Linked DNA regions of Homo sapiens: region 2 is linked to region 1. Evidence: fine-mapped expression QTL. Tissue or cell type: monocytes. Region 1 holds a variant in brackets; the other region holds the start of a gene. All regions are shown on one strand. Distances are from middle to middle.

Region 1 (8,103 bases):
CAGGAGCTCCCCCAATCACTCTGGACACGGGTTTTTTAAAGCTTAATTTTGTTTTATAAGCCCTAAAAAAAAATAATAACCTGGACTCCTAGGTCTGACATTCAAGGCCCTTGGTGATGTTATCTCGCCTTCAGATGCCCAAGCTGATGCTCTACTCACCCTCAATGAGCTCTGGTGTCCTTCCTCCAACAAGCCTCCCTGACCACCCAGCCTGAGGCATCCACTTCCTTCCAGTCAGACATCGAGCTGAGTGTGAAATGCTATAGGCCACGGTGGGCACCACGGGACTGCTCACCCACCACACCACACAACTCAGAGTTCCATGAGGACAGAAGCAGCTTCTGCCACTACTGTCATCACCACAGCCCAGCAGGGTGCCCCACACGTAAAATGTGCTTAAATATTTGCTGAATAAAAGAATGAAGTGGTAGGAGTCAAGACTGGATCCCGGGCCGACCAACCCCCGCAGGGCAGAACCACACCTTTAGTCTCCACCATCTCAGAAGCAAAACCATGAGGCCTCCTAAATTCTGGTAGCCCAGTGAACATAACCCAAAAACTGTCACAAGAGCCAGACCTCCACCCTGCTATGAGTGCTGTTCCCTCTGCCTGGAACAGTACTATCTGCCATCTCCTATTCACCCTCAGGTGTCAGTGCTAACGTCACAGCCCCCGGGGACTTCCAATACCCTTCAAAACAGGCTCAGTCCCCATCTGGTGCCTCAGTCAATGCACAGTATGTCCCCTCCAAGGTCACACCTGACTGCAGTTACCTGTCCAGTATCCATCACCACCCATGAGGGCAGAGATGGGGCCTGTCACATCCCCACTGGATCGCCAGGGCCTACATCACAGCATAACAAATATTTTCTAAATTAGTGAATAATCCTGAACAGTGTGACCTAAGCCGTGAATATTTTTGAAGGAGTCTTTCATCATTTTTAATTTGGAGTCTTGCATCTTTAAAAGATGATCGTTTTAAAGGAACTTTGTCATAAATATCTAGGTGATACGTATCTTAAAGAAAACTCTAGACAAAGAGGATAAGTAAATGTACTTACAGTTGTGCTGTCCAATACCGTAGTGACTAACTACATGTGGCTATCTTCATTTACTCAAACCAGGTAACATTTAAAATTTAGTTCCTAAGTCACACTAATCACAATTCAAGTACTCAACAGCCACACGTGGCTCGTGGTTCCAGTACTGTGTCATATAGACACAGCGTAGAGCCGCCCTCCCAATAACGACCACTGGACAGCGCTGGCTTGGAGGGCATCCCGAGAACACAGGCATCCCCAAACAAGGAAACATCTCAATTCACCCTCTTCCTCCTGGGAAAGAATCCGTTCTCCCCTAAAGTTTCAGTGACTGAGAAAGCCATCAGTGAAAGCAAAACACTTGATTCTCTTGCCATCATTCAAATGATTCCCTCAGAGACTTCTCAACAGAAGTTCAACTACGGGCAGGTGTGCTCTTCAAACAAAAACCGATTCCCACAGTAGTAGAGGAACAACCACAATGACACAGAAAACCTATCAATATGTTATGTCTTTTTGTTATTTTCAATAAAGGTGACGTTCTGAATATGTAAATCAGATTTAAGTAAAGATATCCACAAATCGGGGAAAAATTTTGTCCACCACGGGGTAACTTTTACTTATAAAAAAAAAAAATCACACCAAATCTAGGAGAACAGAAAAACAGTAATCTCCATTAAAAGAATTTCCTACTATAGAATCTGCAGGAGGAGAAAAGTCACACAGTACAGCACAGAGCTGAATCTGTTCCTTTCAAGATCTGTGTAGCTGAGCCCGAGAGGCAATTGAGTTTCACTGGTATTCCTTTCAACCAACCTGACTAAACTGGACAGTGATCCCAAGGCCATTTTCTTCCCAACTCTGTTTTCAATAAAATACTATATTTATAATTTCTCTGCATTTACTTTTCCCTTTTCTCTAAGTCCTAATCTAAATCAAGCCCTTGTTCTGAAGCAATAACTAGAAACAGAGTTCCATTTAATTAAGAGTTCAATTTTCCAATAAAAAACAGTTGAACTGCAAACACAGACGGAGTAAAATGAGTCAAACGATTACCCATTTTGTAAGATTCTCGAATCTTAGTTCGTTTTCTTACAAACTGGTTCCCAAACTGCACTAGAGCTGGCACTGAAAGCCAAACAGGCAGGGGCAGAAGCTTCCCATGTATTCAGTGAGAAGCCTCCTGATTCCGGGTCAGGCTACATCATCTTAGTCCTCACTGGCCCAAGAAGTAGGTGATGGCTAATATTTTCCCATACAATTAAACAATAAAAACAGCTGCCTCAACCTGCTATATGCCAGGCACCCTAGTAGCCCCATGTACCAAGATAATCAAAGTAAGCAGAAGTAGAGCCAGGCACAGTGGCTCCATCTCACACCTGTAATTCCAGCTACTCAGGAGGCCGAGGCAGGATTGCTGAAGGATGGGAGTTCAAGACCAGCTTGGGCAAGCAAGACCCCATTGGAAAGAAGAAAAGTAATGTAAAGAAGGGGAGGGGAAGGGGAAGGGGAAGGAAGGAAAAGAAAGAAAGAGAAAAAAAGAAGGAAGGAAGGAAGGAAAAGAGAAAGAAAGAAAGAAAAAAGAAAGAAAGAAGAGAGAAGAGAAAGAAAAGAAACAAATGGAATACTGCAGGGTAAAAAGCCCCTTTTAGAGATCTCTCTCTCTCTCTCTCTCTCACTCACACACACACACACACACACACACACACACACACCCCACCCTGCAAAACTCAAATGTGATGTCACCAGCCCAAGTCACAGCGCTGCCGAGCTGGGAGCTGGGACTCACAGTCTACTCTGAGCAGGAGCCAGGGCTCCCTCCTCAGCACCACACTGACCGCCTCCCCGTATAAAAAGCTGACATTTCCTTCAACTGTGACTCACAGTTAGAAGGTTCTACTTTTAATCAGGTGACAAATACTCAAAATATTTTAATCCAAAGCAACTGGGTCAAACTCGTAGAGTCTATAATTGTCTAAGCAAACCCTAATTACCTGATAAATTTCTATAGCTCCTGAATGTCCTCATTCAGTTTGTAATCAAATACCCAAATCTCCTTATTTAAATGTTGTACAAGCCTTCTCTACATGTTATCATACAGAACAGTGACTTATTTTTCTATTTCACTGGTTATTTTAACCATAAAGTTAAAACATGTTTAGGTGGTGCAGTTTTAATAAGAAAAATCCAAACTAGGGGGAGGAGAAGCAGCTTGTGAATTATAAAAAGATTTGCTTTACAACAGAATTGTACAACTCCACTACACAACTACTTTTTCTCCTTACCACAGATTATGCAAATTCGAAAGGTTGAATTAGGTGCAACTGGAAAATATACCTACTGTATACAATATAGTACAGGCATATTAGAAAGGCAAATTAAGACATTTTCAAACAATAGCAGACAGTACAACTAGAAATGGGAAAGTAAAGTCAGATTTAATCATGTAGAATTATTTTCCCCATTAGATTTTACTATTCTTAGCAATGGTTCAACTAAACAGTCTTTTGATTAATGGAAATGAAACACCGGGGAAAATGTCACACGGGATAATATCCAAATCTTTCTTAAGGGTAAGTTTTAAAAGGAATTCAACTTTTAGAGACAGAGCTCAAAAATAGCCTTGCTTCCTAAATTTAGAACCAGAAAACACCCTAAAGGCAGTATTTTAAATACAGCCACAGTCACCGCCTATATTGTCTAGGAACTTAATAAAAAAAACTTTAAAAAGAGAGGGGCCACTTTTGTTTACTTCCATGCCTTTCACACAGCCTTGCCCAATTTGATTTGTGTGCCCTTGCTCAAATCTCTTCAAGTCACAGCTCAAATGGCAAAGACCTGACCACTCCAGGACGCCCCGGGGACTCTGCTCGTGGCCTATTGTAGCACCCCTGTCAGCAGAGCACGGCCCCAGGGAAAGGAGAACAGGCAAAAGCCCCCACAGGCACTGCTCCCAAGGCTTACACTTCTGCATCAAAGACTCATGCAATAGGAGAATTTTGCCGAAAGCCAAGTTTGAGCCTGACTGAGAAGAGCAGCATCCTTTTCCAGTTAAAGCAAGGAGTGTATCCGGAGGGATGCACTGCAAGGAAAAGACCTCAGAGAGGACTAAAGGGAACGCTGAGCGCATGTGCTAAAAAGCAGACGGCACGGCCAGGAGCTTCAGAGCCTAGGAGAGACGGGACAACCAGAAGAGGACTCAGATGTGAGCAAGCCATGGGCCTACAACGATACCCCAGGAAACAAACTGTCATGGTCAGGGTGCTTTTCCCAACAACCAGGAATGCATGGAAAACAGGCAGGCTTCCCCAACTCCTGGCTCTGTGCTGGCTCAGCAGAAGAGCTGTCACAGGAGCCCAAGGCTCCTCAACCATCCCAGGGCCTGCCTCCCACTGGGGCATGCGGCCCTGGACTTCTGCACACGGGGACACTCAGG[A/G]AACAGGGGAGGGAGTAAATGAAGCCTTATTCAGATCACCCTTTCTGGTTCCAGAGTTTTTGCACTTGACTGCATTTCTGTACCCTTTCCTTAAGTTTTGCCTCGAGGTTTCATCTTCTCAAGATGGTTCTAAGTACTCACAGGCATCTATCAGAATCCTGTGTACACTGCTAATGCTTAACAGGTACCTCAAGATAAATTATACACAGTAAACAAACAGAATCACATACTTGTCTGCTGCTTAAACAGTCCATGAAATATGCTTCAAAATTATCAATAATTTTCAGTGTACATCCTGATTTGATTTAAAAGAAAAAATAATTCAGAACACACACCATTTAAGTTTTCGTAATTTTAAGCTTTCATGGCCATCACGTTCCTATTTTTAAAAATACAATAAAAAATGGAGACAGAGTCAATGGTATAGATGACAGAATTCCCGGCTATGTATCTGCTGAGGTGCTACACTATCACACGCGTGCCTGCACACTGGTTTCTGTGGATACGAGCACACATGGCTTCTGTCCTTTCCAGAACTGCTGAGAAACAGGTCTTGCTCCAATCAGACTAGCACTCCCAGTAAGTCCTAGGACTTACAAGGTACGACAACGTCCCTGGTTAACGCTAGTGTCAGTTCCCATTGGGCGGATATGCCAGACACACATCATCTCAGGCTACCCTCATAACCACCCTGAGATGGGAATTGTTATTATCTCCATGTTACAGATGAGGAAACTCTGAGCTCAGAGAGCTGATGTAACTTGCCCCAAACATGCTCTGGCCTCAGCACTCCTAAGGCCAGCTGGTTTGGTGGCCGGGTGGGAGCCCATGGGTACGGAACTCGGAAGCAAATAACAGACCCAATTAGAAGATAGGTGGCAATCTGCTTGAAAGTAAAACCTTAACAAGAAAATGATAAGAACTTTAAGGGACAAATACTATATAATTCTTTCACTAATTCCCTCAAATATTTCCTGAGGGCCTACTATGTGTCAGGCACTGCCCCTGGGGAGGGAAGTGCTGGGAAGAGGGCCGTGGAAAGGCTCTGGAGTTCTTACTGACGCTCACCTTCTGGTGTCACAGGAAGGGGAGCAAGCCTAGAGCCTGAGATGACAAAGACGGACGAGAAATGCCATGTGGGCCACTGGGGTCAACAAAAAGCAAAAGAACAAAGAAAAATGCAACCGGTCACCAGGCTTTCTGATAAATTCGTCTGATTTTAAATCAAGTCATCCATATAACTGTTACAGAGGAACAAAAAAGACAGAGAGAGAGGGCCCTGCTAAGCTCTGAAGTGCTCCAAGACAGGAGACCCAAGCTAGCCTGCTGCTCACCTGGGCTCTCCCGGGCTCCACATCATGCAGCTCAGAAAACTTGCCCTGCTGCTGTTTTCCTTAAAGCTGTCTGTGCAGCCGTGGTAGGCCAGTGCTCCCCAACGGGTGCTCAGAGAATGAAGTCCCACGTTATATCAGTCACCAAATTGCAGCCCATGGGCGAAGTCCTCAGATGCCAGTCTTTACAACTAGAGTTTTACTGGAACACAGCCAGGCCCACTCGCCTATGGCTACTTTCTTGCTGAAATGGCAGCCTTGAGTAGTTGCAACAAGAGACCATATGGCTCAGAAAGCCAAATGCGTGCTCTCTGGCCCTTTGCAGAGGAAGTCTGCGGACCCATAATAGGCTAAAAAGAGTTCTAGCGTCAAACAGGATTGAGAGTGGTCCAACTGTAGCCCCTCTCTCACAGTGCCCAATCAGGACACCAAGGCTCTGGGAAAGTCTGCAGTCAAATTCCTCAGCTACAAGCAACAGCATCTGAGCACAAACCATTTGTTGAGAAATACCTCTTAGCATGCCCTCTAGTTTCTTGGAATACATGTGAAGAGCTGGTTTGAGTAAGGTAAAGAGGGGTGCCCTCACTAATGGGACCCCAAAAACTAAACTGACAAGCTTTTGCAATCTTCAGAAACTCACAATAAGGTACATTTCATCTTAACTAAGGTAAGACACACTTTGGCAAAATCATTTTCCTAACTGTTTTCAAATACATCAAGTAAAAACACAAGTCAGCAATTATGGACCCCCCAGGTAATCACATACTTTGCCACACAATTACAACACACTACTTAGAAGCTGTGAAAACACAGGCGACTAATCTAAGCATCAACTTCCAACTGCAGGACTCAGTCTCTTTGTAAGTTATGTTCAATTCTGTTTACAGAATCAAATCTGAATGTTCAGCCAGGAGCGACTTTCCATCTTCTGAAGGCCCTCTAAGGCGCCCTGCACATGACTTGTCCTTGCCTACCTTCATCCCTGACGACCTTTGAATGGGGCCACCGCTCTCACCCCTCTCAGTTATTCAAAAACGAAGCACGGTCATGAAATGTCCTAGTCCTAAAAGTCTCTATGACAACTTTTATTCCTACTTAGCCAGAACTCACTGATGGGGTAACATAACCGTTTCTCATTCTCCCTGAGGTAAACAGGAACACGAGCCCACACACGTCACGCTGAGGATAACACCAGAACCAGAGGGAAAAGGGGGACGCCCTAACCCAGGAGGAAGAATACACTCCTGGCTGCCCCCACCACAGGTGGTTACAAACCTCCCCCTTAGTGATCTCATTCATGTGCGGGAAGGCCGCTACTGAAACTCACTAAGCTTGGCAGGTTCCTGGGTCGATTCAAGTAAATGCATTGTTTACAGATAGAGACTTAGAAAATAAATATATAGAGCTACGGACTTTAACAATCTAGTTTGGATCTGGTTTTGACCCTGTATCACCTCTCAAGTCCAGTTCCTCACCTAGAAAATAGCAGTAACAGCATCTTCCCTTCCTCACAGGACGCTGTAAGGATCAAACTGAGGTGACGTGGAGAAAAGCACTCTGATACATAAAGTACCAGACATACATAACAGACCATTTGGTTGACAACCATATTCGCCACCAGCTTTCTTTAAATAAGCTTCCCTATTGCATTTAAAAGGATTCACGTCATAAAATGTAATCACAACTGCTTAGAGCCACTTATACAGCACAGGATGAAACACAGCTATGTTCAATCTTCAGAATGTAGTTTTTCTTTTCCTTTTTCCCCCAGAGACAGGGTCTCACTCTGTCACCCAGGCCAGAGTGCAGTGGCATGATCACAGCTCACTGCAGCCTCGACCTCCTGGGCTCAAGCGATCCTCCTGCCACAGCCTCCTGAATAGCTGGGATTACAGGATTGTACTATTACACCCAACTAATTAAAAAAATTTTTTGTTTAGATGGGGTCTCACTATGTTGTCCAGGCTGGTCTCCAACTGCTGGCCTCAAGCAATCCTCCTGTCTCAGTCTCCCTAAGCACTGGGATTATAGGCATGAGCCACCACCCTGGCCTGCAATTTCAAAAAACTTTATAAACAGTCTGTTGTGTGCAAATTTTGCAATAAAGCTGACCAAAAAAAAAAAAAAAAAAAAAAAAAAACAACCCAGAAAACAAAAAACAAAAGTCTACTGCTTGCCTGGATATTTGTCTTATACTGTTAAATCATGAATCTCTGATGTTGAAAGACACAATATGCTATTTTAACTTGGACATATTAAATAAAGAAGTTTCCAAAACACCCAACTAACTATATAC
Region 2 (8,103 bases), 220 kb before region 1:
CTGGAGTTGGTTCCTACAAGTTTTGTTTATTCTAGTTTTGTTTGTAAGTAGGTTGTGTGAGTTAATTCATGGATATTTACTATATGTCTTTTAAATTAGAAAACATTTGTTATTATGTATGTCCTTTTAGATTTTACCTGCAGCTCATACTTTGAAATCATCACCCAGTAGTGTCTTACTCTAGCATCGTCTAAATCTGAGCATCATCTGGTGGAATCTTAAATTTCAGTAGAAACCACGAGTTATTAATACATCTTCCACTCAAGTATCAATTTCAGAAGGAAACGTAAATGAATATTCTAAATAAGGCTAATTTGTATTAATCTGCCTTTATGTTTGAGGGAAAAAAAGCTGAGACATTGCATGAAAGATGATGCAGGATATACGCTGATCTTTTGGCCCCAATGAGCTATTTGAACATTGTCCTGTTTATTGTTAGTTTTCTTCATCATTTATTATATGGTCAATTTTTGAATTCCTGTAATATGAAACCTTATTCTATCTTTTAACTTACTGTTACCTAAAGTTAGTAAGTCCAGATTATATGGTCATTCAAAAAAAAAAAAAAAAAGAAAAGAAAAAGAAATCCCCCACAGTTCCATTTATTAAATAAGTAAACCCCAATAATAAGCATTTGTGTCCTGGCAACTTATAGTGGATGTCTAGAAAAGTAATACATAAAGAGAAATGTTCATGTTATTTGTTTAGTCATGGGATGTGTGTGCCTGTCGAGCACCTCTTCAACTTGGAATCTGGTAGAACACCGCCACCCTCATTGCCTCATTTTTCCACGTCGACCTTCACAGTAATTGCTTGTTCAGTGACTGCCACAACCCAGCCTGGCAGAGAGAGGGAAGATACCCTATAAAGCAAGGTAACGTTAATGTTGAGACCATGAATGGCCTTGAGCAGAGCAGAGTATCATTGCTTCCTTCAAAATTCAGAAGGATCTGATGGTGCTCTGTGAGTTCATGGGGGTGCCTCCGTGCAGGTTGGAAACCACAGCTGTGCGTCCTTCCCGCTTTCCCTCTTGATCAGTAGAAGGGTACCCTCCCTGGCCTGCACGTCGCTGGGTCACACAACACTGGCTGTCGTTGCACAAAGCCACGGCCACCAGCGTTCCTTTGAGGCCATTTGTTTCCAGCCATGGTGCCTATAGGATTTTTCCTTTATCCTGTAATTTCAGCCAAATCAGAGCATGTGACCTGGCTTAGATGTCAATATAATTGTTGTTATGTGCTCTTTTCCCTTCCTGTGTCTGTGACAGGTTTAATTTAACCTGAGAAGGCTGCAGATCCTCGGGGTTGGTGTAAAAACACCTCATCCTGATCTGAGAAGGCGGTCAGCTTTTCTCCTCGTTGCCGTTGGCTGCCAGCACCCATTCTCTGTGGATGTGAAAATCCCAGAAGGGCTGGGCTTCCTTCTTGGGCATTCCCCAGGCCTATCTCCAGAGTGGGGCCCAGCATGGGAGGATTGTACCCCACTCACTCCCCTGATGTGGGGCTTGGACCTACAGCTCGACAGCACCCATGGAATGTGGGCAGAAGCGACAGCAGCCAGCTCCGCCTTGGCCTTAGGGCGGCACGTGTTCTGCTTGTGCCCTGGGAGCCTCCACCTTCCACACTGTGGGAAGAGGGTGCCCAGGGAGCTGCAGTCTCTCCAGCCCAGCCCCAGGACGAGGCCCAGGCAGCAGAGCCACCCCAGCAGACCTGGCAGTGTGAGAGAAATGCATGTGTATACACTGAGTTTGCAGGTGGCTGTTACATGGCAGCATTGACTGACACAGACAGAAAAGAGATCCACGAGGGAGAAGTGAGAGTGCTGGAGACTCCACAAGCCACAGGCTGCAGGGGCAGGATGGCTTCTTAGAAGGTGAAATGATTGTTCTGGGAATCTATCAGAGGAAGACATAGAGGCTCCAGACGGTTGAAGGCCCAACAGTGATCCCAGACGGGCCCCATGTCAGACCAGGCTCCTCCAGGGCTGTGCTGCCCTCACCAAAGCCCGTCCTGAGGGCAGCCACACAGCAGGCAGCACTCGCCATTTGTACAAGCGAGGCCCAAGTTCCAGCCTTCCTTCTGGCAGGTAGAGGAAGCAGGGGCACTATGCCTGGGAGTTCCTGAAAGCAGATGGGGCAGCATTTGGTCAAGAGCCAGGAGGGGATGACAGACCAGAGGGGAACCCTCGTCCCACGTGCTGAGCACACGTAGGGGGTTGGGCACTTGCTCTGTGAGCTATAATTGGTGTCCCTGTGCCCCGCCGGAAGCTGCACCAGGCAGTTTCTTGGTGGAGGACAGTGGCCGCCCTCTAGCTTTACTCCCTTCCCCGTGATGGGTCGCTGTCAGATGTGTGTCCAGGAAAGGCAAACACCAAAGGCAGAGGACTAGTCCCTACACCGAATACTCCGGTGGCCTTGCTTGGGGGCTGGGTTTTGACGTGCTGGAGGCTGTCCTAGACTTAGAGATTAAAAACAGGGAAGAACCATTGCTGAAACCTTTGGAAAAGCCTGCAATGGGGCCTCTGGCAGCCTGAGGAGTGGTGGTGTTTCCATCTGGTAGACGCCGTCTCAATAGGAGGGACAGATGAGTGCACCAGTGCTGCCAGCCAGAGGCGTCTGTTGGCGTGTCTTTATGGAATGGGGTGCCAGTCTTGTGGAGGGTGGTTTACCTTCCTGTTTCTAGTCCCCACTGGGCCTGCCTTCTGCTTCATGGCCAGCTGGCCAGACCGAGCACTTTCCTGACTTTCGACCTTGGCCCCTGCTGACTCTTGCCGTTGAGGCCTCCTGCAGACCCCATTTGTATTCATTTCCTGCAGTTCTCATACCTGAATCCCGCCTGGACTTCTGCCAAGCCTTCCAGGCCCTCCTCCCCCAGGGGGACCACAGATGCTACGTGCAGGGCTGTCCTTGGAGGGCCAGCACAGCCCCTTCCAAGTGGGCAAGACCCAGGGGTGGCTCAAAAGATAGCTGTGCCCTAGCCCTGGAACCTCTGAATGTTGATTTTTGTAGCAAAAAAGGACTTGCAGATGTGAGTAAAGGCTGTTGAGATAAGGACATCCTCCCTGCTCTCTGGGAGGACCCCAAATGCAGGTGCACAGATCTTAAGAAGAAGAGGCAGAGACTGGGGTGATGCAGCCACAACTAAGGAAAGCCAAGGATTGCTGGCAGCCTGCAGAAACTGGAGGGCAAGGAGCATCCCCCAACCGCCCGGAGCCTCCAGGAGGCGCAAGGTCCTACTGACTCCCTGACTTCAGACGTCCAGTCTCCGGAATTTTGAGAGGATCCATTTCTGTTATTTTAAGCAACCAAACTTGTGGTAGTTTCACCAGTCTCAGGAAATGAATACGAATGGAAAGTCAAAGATTCCAAGAAATGAGTGGCGGGGTGCGGTGGCTCACACTTGTAATCCCAGCATTTGCGGGAAGATTGCTTGGGCTCAGGACTTGGAGACCTTGTGTCTGTGAGAAACTTAAAAAATAGGCTGGGTGCGATGGCTCACGCCTGTAATCCCAGCACTTTGGGAGGCCGAGGCAGGCGGATCACAAGGTCACGAGTTTGAGACCAGTGTGACCAACATGGTGAAACCCTGTCTCTACTAAAAATACAAAAATTAGCCGGGTGTGGTGGTGCGTGCCTGTAATCCCAGCTACTCGGGAGGCTGAGGCAGAAGAATTGCTTGAACCCAGGAAGCAGAGGTTGCAGTGAGCCGAGATAGTATTACTGCACTCCAGGCTGGGCAGCAGAGCAAGATTCCGCCTCAAAAAAAAAAAAAAAAAAAAAAAAAAAAAAAAAAACTGAGCATGGTAGCATGCACCTGTGGTCCTGGCTACGCCGGAGGATTGCCTGAAGCCAGGAGTTCAAGACCAGTCTGGACAAAAGAGCAAGACCCCATCTCTACCAAAAAAATTTAAAAATTAGCCAGGCATGGTGCCGTACCCATAGTCTTAGCTACTCAGGAGGCTGAGGAGGGAGGATTATCTGAGCCCTGGCGGTTGAGGCTATAATGAGCCATGATTGTGCCACTGCACTCCAGCCTTGGCAACACAGTGTGAGACCCTGTCTCAAAAACAATAAAAACCCAAAACAAAAGAACCAAGAAATTACTGGACCTGAGGCCTGGCCTTTAGCTGCTGCCCTGCCCTTGTGACCTGGTCACTCGGGATCCCCTGGGCCTAAACACACAGCCTATTGTCTACCTCAAGAAGGCTCCCCACTGCTTGGCTGGCAATTGGGGTGGGCTTTGCAGGCCCCACCTGTCCTGGCCCCACGGCGCTGGTGCTGCAGGCCCCCACCACTGCTTGTTCCGAGCTCCCCAGCCTCCTGCAGAGTTGCCTGCACCTGATGGCGATGAATCAGGAAGGCAGGCGTGTCCTGGGCCACAGAGCAGTCATGGCTGTCAGCCACCAGGGGGCTCCATTTGCAACTTTGGATGTGGCTTTGGCCTCTTTGTCCAAAGTGACCTTGGGGCCCCCAGACAAGAGACAGGGAGACTGGAGCCCAGCCCCACCCTCCCGCACATACCTGGCCCATCCCTGCCCTATCCTGGAAGATGGGGGCCACCACACGTGCAAGGGACACGGGATAGGAACCTTTGGCCTTGTTATCAGACATTTTAAAACTAAGTGCAAACGTGATTATCAGGTGCAGTTTTTACAGCAGCAAGAAACCTGTGCTTACAGAAAGAAACACGTGCTAGCAACCCACCTATGCGGAAAGCCACACAGAGCCATTGTTTTCTGCACTCTCAGGTGACGGCTCACATTTGCCCCAGGGAAGGTCACAGCTGCCTGAACTTTTAAAACTCCCAGACACGCACTGCCTGTGCAGGATCCGGAGCCCAGCAGCACTGCCAGGGCCTTGAAGTGCTTCTTCAGAGACCTTTCTTCATAGACTACTTTTTTTTCTTTAAGCAGCAAAAGGAGAAAATTGTCATCAAAGGATATTCCAGATTCTTGACAGCATTCTCGTCATCTCTGAGGACATCACCATCATCTCAGGTGAGCACCAGGTGGAGTGCCTCTGGGTGACTGGCCGGTTTGGAGCAGGGAGGGAGGCTTAGAGTCTCATCCTCCAGCAGCGAGTGAGGCGGAGGCTCCAGCGTCCCTCCCGGGCGGGTTTTCTGGTGGATGGAGGAGTGACTCGGGGTCCTCTACGTGGTGCCAGCTGTTTGGCTTTCTGGACGTTGTAGGAAAGGGTTTCCCCCGCCTGCGTCCCCCTGACCTTGAGCTCCACCAGCCCCTGCCAGCTGGGCTCCAGAAGGCTGGAGTGCTGTGGCAGGGATGACGTCTCACTTCTGTTATGTCTCTGTGCCCTGTGCTCTCCCAGGATGAGGGGCATGAAGCTGCTGGGGGCGCTGCTGGCACTGGCGGCCCTACTGCAGGGGGCCGTGTCCCTGAAGATCGCAGCCTTCAACATCCAGACATTTGGGGAGACCAAGATGTCCAATGCCACCCTCGTCAGCTACATTGTGCAGGTGAGGCCAGGGCAGCCTCCCCCCAAAAGCAGAGGAGCTCTGGAGTCTAGGGCTGGTGGGCAGGGCCAGCCCTATGGAGCCACAGGGTGTCGGGTGTGGGGTACTGAGCACCACTGCTCCCAGCACGGTGGAACAGGCTCTTGGCTGTGGACCAAGGTCCTCATCCCTGCTGTGCTGTCCCTGGCTGGCAGCAGGAGCCCAGGCAGAAACATGAGGCTGCGGTTAAACCGAGCAATGCCACGAGCATCAGCTGTGGCTCCCTTTGTGGCGCTGTAGGGTCCCTGGGTGGCACCAGCCCTGCTCAGCACCACTGTGGCCCTGCCCCCAGATCCTGAGCCGCTATGACATCGCCCTGGTCCAGGAGGTCAGAGACAGCCACCTGACTGCCGTGGGGAAGCTGCTGGACAACCTCAATCAGTGGGTGACAGTGGCAGGGTCATAGGAAGGTGACATCTCGTCCACGGCACAGCCTCACTTCACTTGGGCCCCAAGGGTGGGGACCTGGGCACAGCCTCGCTATCGGCAGCCAGAGGGGTCCCCTATGGCCCCCGCCACTGGGACCTTTTGTTTCTTCAATCCAGGGATGCACCAGACACCTATCACTACGTGGTCAGTGAGCCACTGGGACGGAACAGCTATAAGGAGCGCTACCTGTTCGTGTACAGGTGGGTGGTCTAGAAAGCCAGGAAGCCCCTCCCTCACCTGGGAGGGCCCCAACAGAGCAGGGAAGTAGTTTGTCCTATTAGTTTGTCCTATGGCAAGAACCTGAGGCTTCAGAGCAGGGTCCAGGGTGGAGTGAAAACACCCCAAGGTCCCGGACCAATGGGTTGAGCAGGTGCCTGGCTCCCCCGCCCTCCTGTCGCCTGGGTCCCGGACCAATGGGTTGAGCAGGTGCCTGGCTCCCCCGCCCTCCTGTCGCCTGGGTCCCGGACCAATGGGTTGAGCAGGTGCCTGGCTCCCCCGCCCTCCTGTCGCCTGGGTCCCGGACCAATGGGTTGAGCAGGTGCCTGGCTCCCCCGCCCTCCTGTCGCCTGGGACGCGACGCCTGCCTCCTGGGAAGCAGGAGTGGGGCAGCTTCCAGCCTGGGGTCACCTCCTCCTGCCCGGCCTTCCCGCAGGCCTGACCAGGTGTCTGCGGTGGACAGCTACTACTACGATGATGGCTGCGAGCCCTGCGGGAACGACACCTTCAACCGAGAGCCAGCCATTGTCAGGTTCTTCTCCCGGTTCACAGGTGGGTGCTGCCTGGGCCAGGGTGGGGCTCGGCTTGGCGCTTATGGCCTCCACCCCCTCCTAGGGAACCTGGAATGCCTGTGTCACACACTGCCCTCCCAGTCCCTGGGGCTTGGGTTTTCCATTCAAGTCATTTGGAAAATATCCACCCCCCGGGGGGACTGTCATGATACATAGTTCCAGCTGACATGGTGACTGAACCTGCCCCCAGGGAGTGTGCCTCACACGACGTGGCTGTCTCCACAGAGGTCAGGGAGTTTGCCATTGTTCCCCTGCATGCGGCCCCGGGGGACGCAGTAGCCGAGATCGACGCTCTCTATGACGTCTACCTGGATGTCCAAGAGAAATGGGGCTTGGAGGTGAGGCCCTCCCAGGGGCAGTGGGCACCAGCGGCCTCCGCATGTCCCAGGGCCACAGGCAGCGTTTCCTGGTAGGACGTCATGTTGATGGGCGACTTCAATGCGGGCTGCAGCTATGTGAGACCCTCCCAGTGGTCATCCATCCGCCTGTGGACAAGCCCCACCTTCCAGTGGCTGATCCCCGACAGCGCTGACACCACAGCTACACCCACGCACTGTGCCTATGACAGGTGAGCAGGGCCTCGCGCTTAGGGCAGACTGAGGGCACCTCCAAGGGCAGCCGTGACTCATAGGTCGGGCTTCAGAAGCCTCAAAGCCTTTGAACACTCACCCAACTGAGCTTCAGTTGATCCACTACAGGGAACAGAATAACAAGAGCCACGATTTTTAGGTTTTTTCGGAAAAGCACATCTGGGGATAAGAGGAGAGGCAGACACCTAGGCTGTCATGTGGTTTCCACATTGAGGGGCACAGACCAGGGTGTGCAGTTTTGGGCACCCACAGACCTGCACTGGCAGGTCCCAGGGCTCTTAGTTTAGTTCCTGCGGGTGCTGAGCCAGGCCCATGTGTGAAAGGGGAACCTACTTTCTCTTCCCAACACCCATCAGGATCGTGGTTGCAGGGATGCTGCTCCGAGGCGCCGTTGTTCCCGACTCGGCTCTTCCCTTTAACTTCCAGGCTGCCTATGGCCTGAGTGACCAACTGGTATGTGTCCTCCCTTGCACAGCCACATGAGGATGGGACACAGGAGCTCAGGTAGGCTCAGCCCAGACCCTGTGCCCACTTGCCTGCAGGCCCAAGCCATCAGTGACCACTATCCAGTGGAGGTGATGCTGAAGTGAGCAGCCCCTCCCCACACCAGTTGAACTGCAGGAAGAGAGGACCCATCCTGCCACAGGACCCAGAAAAAAAGCCCAACACACACTCGGGTTAAGAAATACCTTTAAATTTAGGTAAATAAAGCTCAAGGAGGTGGGGCTGTCATCTGTGGTGTCAGTCCTTCTGGCCCCCTGGCTGTCAGTGTCGCTCCAGGGCCTTGAC

Evidence for each region. PIP is the estimated chance that this variant, and not a neighbour inherited with it, causes the effect.
Region 2: DNASE1 starts here. The variant in region 1 is fine-mapped to the expression of DNASE1 in monocytes (Quach 2016, PIP 0.95).

What each region holds. Positions count from the first base shown.
Region 1 is chr16:3,868,480-3,876,582 of GRCh38, forward strand. The region is part of intron 1 of CREBBP (CREB binding lysine acetyltransferase); the gene reads right to left. Among named protein-coding and RNA genes, the nearest start is that of CREBBP, 8.2 kb to the right of the region's middle. RefSeq lists silencers at 2,729-3,023, 3,929-4,223 and an enhancer at 3,560-4,095. The variant A/G (reference allele first, on the strand shown) is at 4,477.
Region 2 is chr16:3,650,050-3,658,152 of GRCh38, forward strand. It overlaps DNASE1 (deoxyribonuclease 1), which reads left to right and starts at 4,642. Exons shown (of 9, transcript NM_005223.4): 1 at 4,642-4,995; 2 at 5,324-5,471; 3 at 5,800-5,888; 4 at 6,053-6,136; 5 at 6,589-6,704; 6 at 6,950-7,062; 7 at 7,138-7,292; 8 at 7,671-7,767; 9 at 7,857-8,046. The coding sequence starts at 5,325. The coding sequence ends at 7,904. TRAP1 (TNF receptor associated protein 1) reads right to left here. Exons shown (of 18, transcript NM_016292.3): 18 at 7,988-8,103. The coding sequence ends at 8,080. LOC124903631 (a long non-coding RNA gene) reads right to left here and starts at 7,718. Exons shown (of 2, transcript XR_007064954.1): 1 at 7,648-7,718; 2 at 587-7,473. RefSeq lists enhancers at 4,819-5,346, 5,347-5,874.